Regions from separate parts of the Homo sapiens genome. Here region 1 is linked to region 2. Evidence: fine-mapped expression QTL. A gene starts in region 2. The other region holds a variant in brackets. All regions are shown on one strand. Distances are from middle to middle.

What was found. PIP is the estimated chance that this variant, and not a neighbour inherited with it, causes the effect.
Region 1: its variant is the best candidate, but not a certain one, in a credible set for the expression of COL25A1-DT in prefrontal cortex (CommonMind, PIP 0.66).

Annotation. Positions count from the first base shown.
Region 1 is chr4:108,723,670-108,728,066 of GRCh38, reverse strand. No RefSeq gene overlaps it. Among named protein-coding and RNA genes, the nearest start is that of ETNPPL, 37 kb to the left of the region's middle. The variant C/T (reference allele first, on the strand shown) is at 1,805.
Region 2 is chr4:109,300,468-109,304,864 of GRCh38, reverse strand. COL25A1-DT (COL25A1 divergent transcript) reads right to left here and starts at 1,830. Exons shown (of 3, transcript NR_160939.1): 1 at 1,538-1,830. It overlaps COL25A1 (collagen type XXV alpha 1 chain), which reads left to right and starts at 2,207. Exons shown (of 38, transcript NM_198721.4): 1 at 2,207-2,696; 2 at 2,790-3,142; 3 at 4,213-4,282. The coding sequence starts at 2,846. RefSeq lists an enhancer at 1,353-2,135.

The sequences.
Region 1 (4,397 bases), 580 kb after region 2:
TCTTTTTGAGATGGAGCCTCGCTCTGTCGCCCAGGCTGGAGTTCAGTGGCGTGATCTCAGCTCACTGCAAGCTCTGCCTCCCAAGTTCACGCCATTCTCCTGCCTCAGCCTCCCGGGTAGCTGGGAGTACAGGCACCTGCCACCATGCCCAGCTAATTTTTTGTGTGTTTTTAGTAGAGACAGGGTTTCACCGTGTTAGTCAGGATGGTCTCGATCTCCTGACCTCGTGATCTGCCCACCTCGGCCTCCCAAAGTGCTGGAATTACAGGCATGAGCCACCACGCCCAGCCTTAAATCTTAACTTATATATAAGAATCACCTGGAGAGATTGATAACCAGTTTCTTGACCCTCAGTCCCAGAGATTCTAATTCATTAGGTGTGGGAAGGGACATGAGTTTTCATTTCTAATAAGCTCACAAGTGGTACCAGTGCTGCTAATCTGAAGACCATGCTTTGAGAACAACTAATATATAAACAAGGATAAATGATAAGACAAAGATGTATGCCAGATAATGGAAGTCCTAAAAAGAAATTAAAATAATATTTAAGTCCAGGCATGGTGGCTCACACCTGTAATCCCAGCTCTTTGAGGGGCCGAGGTGGGTGAATCACCTGAGGTCAGGAGTTTGAGACCAGCCTGGCCAATAAGGTGAAACTTCATCTCTACTAAAATACAAAAATTAGCCAGGTGTGGTGTCACAAGCCTGTAATCCCCATTACTTGGGAGGCTGAGGCAGGACAATTGTTTGAACCCCGGAAGCAGAGGTTGCAGTGAGCTGAGATCACACCACTGCACTCCAGTCTGGGCAACAGAGCGAGACTCTGTCTGAAAAAAAAAATACAGAAAATAATAATAATGATGATAAAAATGTTTAAAAAAATAAAGGAGATAAATTTTCAAAAATAAAGGGGGGAAAACAATAAAAGACCTCAGAATGAAAGGCTTCATAGAGGACTAAACATAGGGAACAAGATAAAAATCCACTCCTAGAATAAGAAGAGAAAATTCTAAAATACACTGTACAGAAAAATAGATCACCAACCAAAATTAAAATTCGAGTAACACCAAGTTTTTTCAACAGCAATATGATAAGCAAGACACATGAGATAATATTTTCAAATTTTGAAAGAAATGCAGTTACAATTTTATACCAAGCCAAACTAACATTCAAATATGAAGGCATCATAAACATTTTCTCAGGCATACACAAACTTTAGCTGGTTTGTGCATACAAAAATCCACTTTGAAGACAGTATTAGATGAAATGTTTAAATAACAGGAAAGAGATGTATAAGATGCTCCAAGAGACATGAAGTGAAGAGGATTAAATTCCTTGGAAAAGTTTGACCTTGTCATAAAAACTAGCTAAGGTAAAAGCAAAACTAGAACTATTTATAACAATAAAGTAAGTAAAATTATATATTTCCCTTTAGGTTTCAAGAGCTGCCTACTCTGTGCTCATCTTATTATCTGAGCAACTCTCTTCCAAATCCTGTCAGGTAGTAGGGACAAATGGCACCTCCTCCCTCCAGAAGAAAATATTCACATGGCTTTTGACAAAAATATACTTTTCAAGATAGGTGCTTGCTTGCTTAATATTTAATCAACCTCTAAATTCATGTTTCCCTATAGCCCTATTTCTCCTAGGAAAGTTACCTAAATCTTTAACCAATAACTTCAACCTGGACAGTCCTACCTCAGGAGTTTAGAAGTGGCCCACACTTATTCAGACAAGCTCTAGCAAAAATCTAACCAAACAATTTCTTTTTTTTTTTTTTTTTTGAGACGGAGTCTCGCTCTGT[C/T]GCCCAGGTTGGAGTGCAGTGGCGCGATCTCGGCTCACTGCAAGCTCTGCCTTCTGGGTTCACGCCATTCTCCTGCCTCAGCCTCCAGCTGGGACTACAGGCGCCCGCCACCACGCCCGGCTAATTTTTTTTTGTATTTTTAGTAGAGACGGGGTTTCACTGTGTTAGCCAGGATGGTCTTGATCTCCTGACCTTGTGATCCGCCCGCCTCAGGCTCCCAAAGTGCTGGGATTACAGGCATGAGCCACCGTGCCCGGCCCCAAACAATTTCTTGAAGGGGAATAACTTCTTCAGTTGCAGATAACCTCCTTATCTGCTCCCTCTTCACAGGACTCACACAGCAACGTGCAGTACAAACCTTAACTTTCTAACAGAAGGAAAATGACTTTTGTCTAACTTAAAGGTTATAAAGGTAAAGAGGTATTTTTGGTAAGGAATGTTATAGAGAAAAGAGATTTTGTATATAAACAAAAGACCTTGTATGATAAATTATTGTCCTAAAGTAAAATAGTTGTTAAAAAAAGAGGGATGTTTACTACAAGTCAGAAAGTCCAGGCATGTCATAGATGGTCTGTGTAAGTCTGAAAAATTTATGAAATAAATGTTGTATAGTTTAAAGGTTATTAGGCCTACTAAATGCTTCATAAACTGCTACTATGACTCTTAACTGTACAATTCGCCTTCTTTAAAGCTAGGTAAGGCCAGAGGACACACAGAGTTAGCCATGTCCCCTAGCTATGCTGAGAAGACTCAAACATTATCTGCACTTCTGTCTGGTGTCCTAGGCTCCACACCTAGTACATAATTAGAATTACTTACTTACCAAAAGTAAAAGTTGGTAAGGGTTAGCAGTGTAACATGTACTCGAGACTACTGGAAAAACAGTTTTACATGCAAGGTGTGTAAGGAAAGTAGAATGTGTTTTGGTAAAAGATTATAGGAAGGCATGGCTGGGTGCAGTGGCTCACACCTGTAATCCCAGCACTTTGGGAGGCCAAGGTGGGTGGATCACGATGTCAGGAATTCAAGACCAGCCTGAACAACATGGTGAAACCCCATCTCTACTAAAAATACAAAAAAAAAAAAACTATCCAGGCATGGTGGCGCACACCTGTAGTCCCATAGTCCCAGCTATTTGGGAGGCTGAGGCAGGAGAATTGATTGAACCCAGGAGGTGGAGGCTGCAGTGAGCTGAGATCATGCTACTGCACTCCTGCCTGGGCGACAGAACAAGTCTTGAGTGAAAAAAAAGAAAGTATACTTTACTCAAGTGCTGAAAACTATAAATAGCTTTTTAAAAAAGTGTTATTAACTCTGGAAAACAAAACAAAAAGAATCAGTAATGTTTTAAACAAAAAAATTATTTCAGTCCTCCATCAGTTCAGTCCTATGTAATTAATTGTTATTCTGTCTGATATTAAGTTAGCAGTTTTATGAGTCCAGTTTTTCCCCAATGGTGTTATTGAAATTCCTACCCAGTTCAATTGTATGATCTCAAGGTCATAAGCAAAGGTCTGTATTTCAGATTATCTAGCAGAGTCTTTTTATCCTTTCCCTTAACCTCCTTGAAGACACAAGGCTTTAATATTTCCAAAGAGCTTTTAGAAAAAGATCAGAATAAAGCAATTTACCACATATACCAAGACATATCAGATTTTTAAGATTCTCATATAATTTTGAAACACATATTAATAACACATCCATACAAATGTAACTCAGAGTTAAATATCATTTCTTATTTGACAATGCTTCCTATGTGATTTTAACATAACAAATAAGCCTAATATGTCTGTCTTAGATATCCAGGGGCCCTTTTTGAATGTCCAAAACCAGTTCAAGGTAAAAAAAAAAAAAAGGCTTAATTTAGAACATGAAACTTTGATTTGGGAAGTTTGTTGAATACCTAAGGTTTATTTTGTTATCAAAATATGAAAGATTGAAGACACTTAATCATAGGTCATGAGGATCATAGGTCACTATAAAATAATAGTCACTAATTTAGCCAAAATGATAATTTAAAGATTTCAAAAAGCAAAAATTTTACTCTTTGATAGAGAGGAGACACTATTTTTCAAACAATCAAAACACCTGATACAGACAGCATGAGACTAACAAAGTCTGTCTCTTCGTCTCTTTCTTTTTACGAAGTTTACTCAAAAGGCAAACAAAAATCTTTTACTATCTCTTATTAATAGCAAATGAAAATCTTGTTTAAAAGAGAAAACCAAACTCTACCCTTCTATCAATCAGTGTATTATTAATATTAAACATAATTTTAATAAAACCTTATAAGCAGATCTGTCTAATCTCAATCATGTTTAACCACAAAGATAAGATTTTCATAAATCTTTTATAACCTCTCACAATTTTTCCCATTCTATTTCTTTCCCCAACTTTCTATATTCATTCAGTTTTATCTATTATTCTTACTTTATTCCTCGAATTTAAAACACCTTGTAAACAACCTTTAAACTAGACAAAATTACTTTTTATTTAACAAAACTACATTTTCATGATTTTCTCATAACCTTCCTTTCCAAAACACATCCTACTTTCCTTGATGTCAAGGTCATAAGCAAAGGTCTGTATTTCA
Region 2 (4,397 bases):
TGTTGTGGGGGTTGAAAGATGTAAGATCTTTGTCCTAAGGACAACCAGAATTATTGAAGGACTCTAAATAGATGAGGAGAGGAGGGCAAGGGAGAAGTCAGGGCCGGCAACTGGGTATTTTGGCTTGGGGAGACTGGATGGATGGCAACTCCATTGGCTGAGATGGGAAACAGAGGAAGCAGACAGAATTTGGAGGTAAGCTGCAGGTTACATTGGAAATGAGAGTGAGACATCCAAACGGAGATGACAAAGAGGCAACTGGCTATATGGATCTGAGGTTCAGGAGAGAGGTTTGGGCTTTTGATATGAATTTATGACTCATCAGTGTAATGGGAACTCTACTGGAGAGAGTATACAGAGAAGATGGAATAGACAGAGACCCAAGGAGCACCAACTTTCAGAGAAATGAAAGAGGAAAAGCCTGCAAATGAGACTAAGGAACAGCTAGAGGTTACAGAAAGAGTTTGTACATTAAAATATTTGTACCCATTATTTGGGTCCTGTTATTGGAAACATGTTTAATCACAATTAAATGTGACTTGAAATTTATCTGTTTTAAAATTTATTTAAAAACGTTGTTTATATTTAAAAGAGGAACAGTAAATCCTCACATCGCAGGGTTATGAGGTTCAAATACAAAAAGTATTTGAAAATATTTTGGAAAGTATTATACCAGTGGTTCTCAAACTTTAGTAGTATATATCAAAATCATTTGGAGGGCTTGTTAAAACACAGATTGCTGTTTTTTTTAAAATTATTATTTCAGTAGTGGTAGTAGCAGTTTCTGATTCAGATCTGTGGTAGGAACCTAGAATTTTAATGTCCAAGTTCTCAGGTGATGCTGATGTTATTGGTCTAGGACCATCCTTTGAGAACCACTGTGTAATACAAATGAATTATGGTTTTGACTTTATAGCCAAATTCATTGAGTTTTCCTCCAATGTTAGTCTCTTTCTTCCTCTAATGCTGTTATTTCCTTACCTTGCTTCACACCTAGCAATATCCGTTTACACATGTGAAAGACCAACTTAGTGAAGTATTTTGTTGACTGTTTACAATAGTAAGCAACGACTTCAGGTTAGCTTAATTAAGGAGAATAGGAAAAATATATGGTTTTTTTTTTTATAGGGAGATAAGAAGGAACTCTTTGGAATAAGAGGTGGGATTTCTGTTTTCCCCAAAGTCAATTAGATGTCAAATGCTACTTGTTACCAACTTTCCAAAATCCCATTAGAGACCTTGTAATTTGATCCAGAGAGAACAGCATTAAGAGTCAGGTAAAAGGAAAAACTGACTTCATTCTTCATTCCTTTCCTAAATCCTGAGAAATGTGTATACCTCAACACTCCCTTTTCCAATCCCGCAAAACAGGGAATCAGGAAAACACATTAGCACCCTAGTACAGACTAGGAATACAGAGCTGGGAGGAGACTCAGTGCCGTCAAGACAAGGAAACTGGGGGAGGGGAAGGAAAACTTCCCCTCGTTGGACAATCTGAGGGCTGCAGTGGGAAGAGAAGGGAAGTGGGGAAATGTACCTCAGACGTCGGCCAGACACTTTGCCTCTGGGCATGTGGGAAAGTGAGGGAGGAGGGAAAAGCGCTGCACCACAGCGAGATAGCAACAGCTCCTGCGGCTGCTTTTGAGTGAAGATCAGTAGAGATAGAGCGTGCCGCTTCACATCTTCCTCCCGGAGGCCATTTCTCCATTTTTATGTGGGATAAAAAGGGGGCGCTGGGCTGAGTCAGTATAAGCCAAAGTTGCCGCCTCTTGCGCAGCCGACCCCGCTTCGGCCCCGGCCCAGGCCAGAGAGGTGGCCCTCGGAGATGCTGAAGTTACTCCGCGCAGGGGGAGGGGTCGCCAGGCTCCTCTCCAATCACGGTGGCCGCTCCAGCTATTTGCATACATTATGCTAATAACAGACCTCCTGCCCCGCTCCCACCCAAGCTTCCCGCCTCCCTTGGGGGTTCCCCGGGCCGGCCCGCGGGCTGGGCCAAGGTGAATACATTATGATAATAAGGCGGGCTCCTGCTTTGCCTTCGGAAGGGGGGCGCGCAGCAGCGGGAGCGGCAGGCCGGACGCCGGGCGCCGGGAGGGGGTCGGGGGAGGGACGTCGTGCTCGGAGCGCGCGCGCACTCACACACTCACACACACACTCACGCGAGCATCGCGAAGGGTATTTAAGGATCGCGCACGCGGGGCTGCGGAGATCCTTCGGGCAGCCGCGACTTCGGCTTCGCGAGTAGCATTGGTTCCTTGGGTTTATTTCGTTTTCCTCTCTCTTCTCCACCTTAGTCGCCCCTTTCGCGCTGCGCTGTAGCGTGCTCTCACAGCCTTTTTGCCTTGAACTGAATGCAGGTGGGAAACAGGTCGGCGTGCCGAAAGACACCGAGTAGGTAGAAATAAGGCAAACTCACAGAGGCGCAACAGGTCCGGTCCTCCGTGGCCAGGGCGAGCCGCGGCCCCGCGTGGCGCCTCGGCCGTTGCCCTCGGACCCTGAGCGGCCACTGTTGGGGCCCTCGAAAGAGGTGTCGGTCCTCTGGGAGTCGGAAGAGCTGTCTGGGTGGGTTTCGTCTTGCTTTTTACCCCACCGCCACCCAGTCCCCGGACGGAGGGTGCTTTTCACTTCCAGCTGGGAGGAGAGAAGAAAGCGGGGATGGTGCACGCCTGCGGGTCTGGACGCTGAGCAAGGCAGGGGTCCGTATCCGCTCGTGGGCTTGACTCCACCAACTAGTTGTGCAGCCACAGGGACTGAACTTTGGAGGAATCGACCTTTTTCTTTCCTTTTAGGATTATTTGAGGTGTAGAGGGTGGGAAGCGAAGCCGAGACGGCCGACCCCGCCACGATGCTGCTGAAGAAGCACGCAGGGAAAGGAGGGGGCCGGGAGCCCAGATCCGAGGACCCGACCCCTGCCGAACAGCATTGTGCCCGGACCATGCCCCCGTGTGCCGTCCTGGCGGCCCTCCTGTCAGTGGTGGCCGTGGTGTCTTGCCTGTACCTGGGTGTGAAAACCAACGACCTCCAGGCGAGGATCGCCGCTCTCGAATCCGCCAAAGGGGCCCCTTCCATTCATCTGCTGCCTGATACCCTGGATCACCTCAAGACTATGGTGCAAGAGAAAGTGGAGCGACTTCTGGCTCAGGTGTGAGAGGCTGGGGTATTTTGCACGTGGGTAACATCTTGTACAAGCGTGACTCTGTGTGCATGACTAGCCGCTACCCTTACTGTACCCATACTTGGTGTGGCTGTGTGTGTGCGCGCGCGTGCATGTGTTGGCCAAGGATCTATGCTCACTGTAGCATATATTTATATGTGCACATCCCTTGATGTCCCCATCCCTATCTCTAATCTTCCCTCACTCTCTCTTAATGTTTGCGTGTTAAACACATAGGAAGGTCTAAAAGGGTTCGGAAAGGGCATTTTATCTCTTTTTAGTTGTCCTAAGTCAAACCCAATTGTGGAGAGAATATTTCTTGCAGAGATAGCATCTGTTAAATCTTTTACATGTTGTAAGATGGTTAGGGTCATAGATGTTATTAATATATAAAAAAGGTAATCACTCTTAAATGTAAAATAATGTCATATATAATTTAAAATCAATAATTTCACACGTTGAATCTTTTCATATTAAAAGTTTAAACTTTTTTTTTTTAAAGTAGCTTTATTTTTGGTAAAGGATGCAGTGCCGGGGTATTTATGAATGCAGAGCCCTTGGAATTGAGAGTTGAGAGGAATCTATGTTATGTGTAAGGGTACCTTTAGACTAGAGTAAGGGGGTTTTCTGGAACCTTACCCTAGCCGGGAGCCTATTTGGCAGTAGTTGCAGCCTAGCATGATAAATAAAGCAGTTGACCTTCATGTATAAAATATTGGCTGTTATTGGTAAGCCACAGCTTACCTAATACTGCAACATTTTAGTGCTAGGTTTTTACATTGACTGCATATGCTTGAGCTGAGGGAGAGAGTGGTGGTAGAGAAGAATGGAGAAAGATGTTATACAAGTCCAGCAATCTTGATACCCTATCAGTGGTCATTTTCTTTTTTTAGGACTTAGGCATGGTTACTTTCTTGACTAGAGTCCAAGTACATATGTAAATGTTAGTTATGCAGGTTATGAAATGCCGGTAAATCAGGCGTATGGCCAGAGTCCCTAAAGACTCCATCCCTCTACAGTGCTACTGATGATTATTAATAACTCTTCTTTTCCTACAGAAATCCTATGAACATATGGCTAAAATAAGAATCGCAAGAGAAGCACCTTCAGAATGTAACTGCCCAGCAGGTAAAATGGAACTTATTTAACAAGGTTTCCTCCAGAGCAGAGCATTTTAAAACAAAGGTCCTGTGTCTGTCAAGTCTACCTGTAATAATAGTAAAGAAAGAATGCAGACCCAACT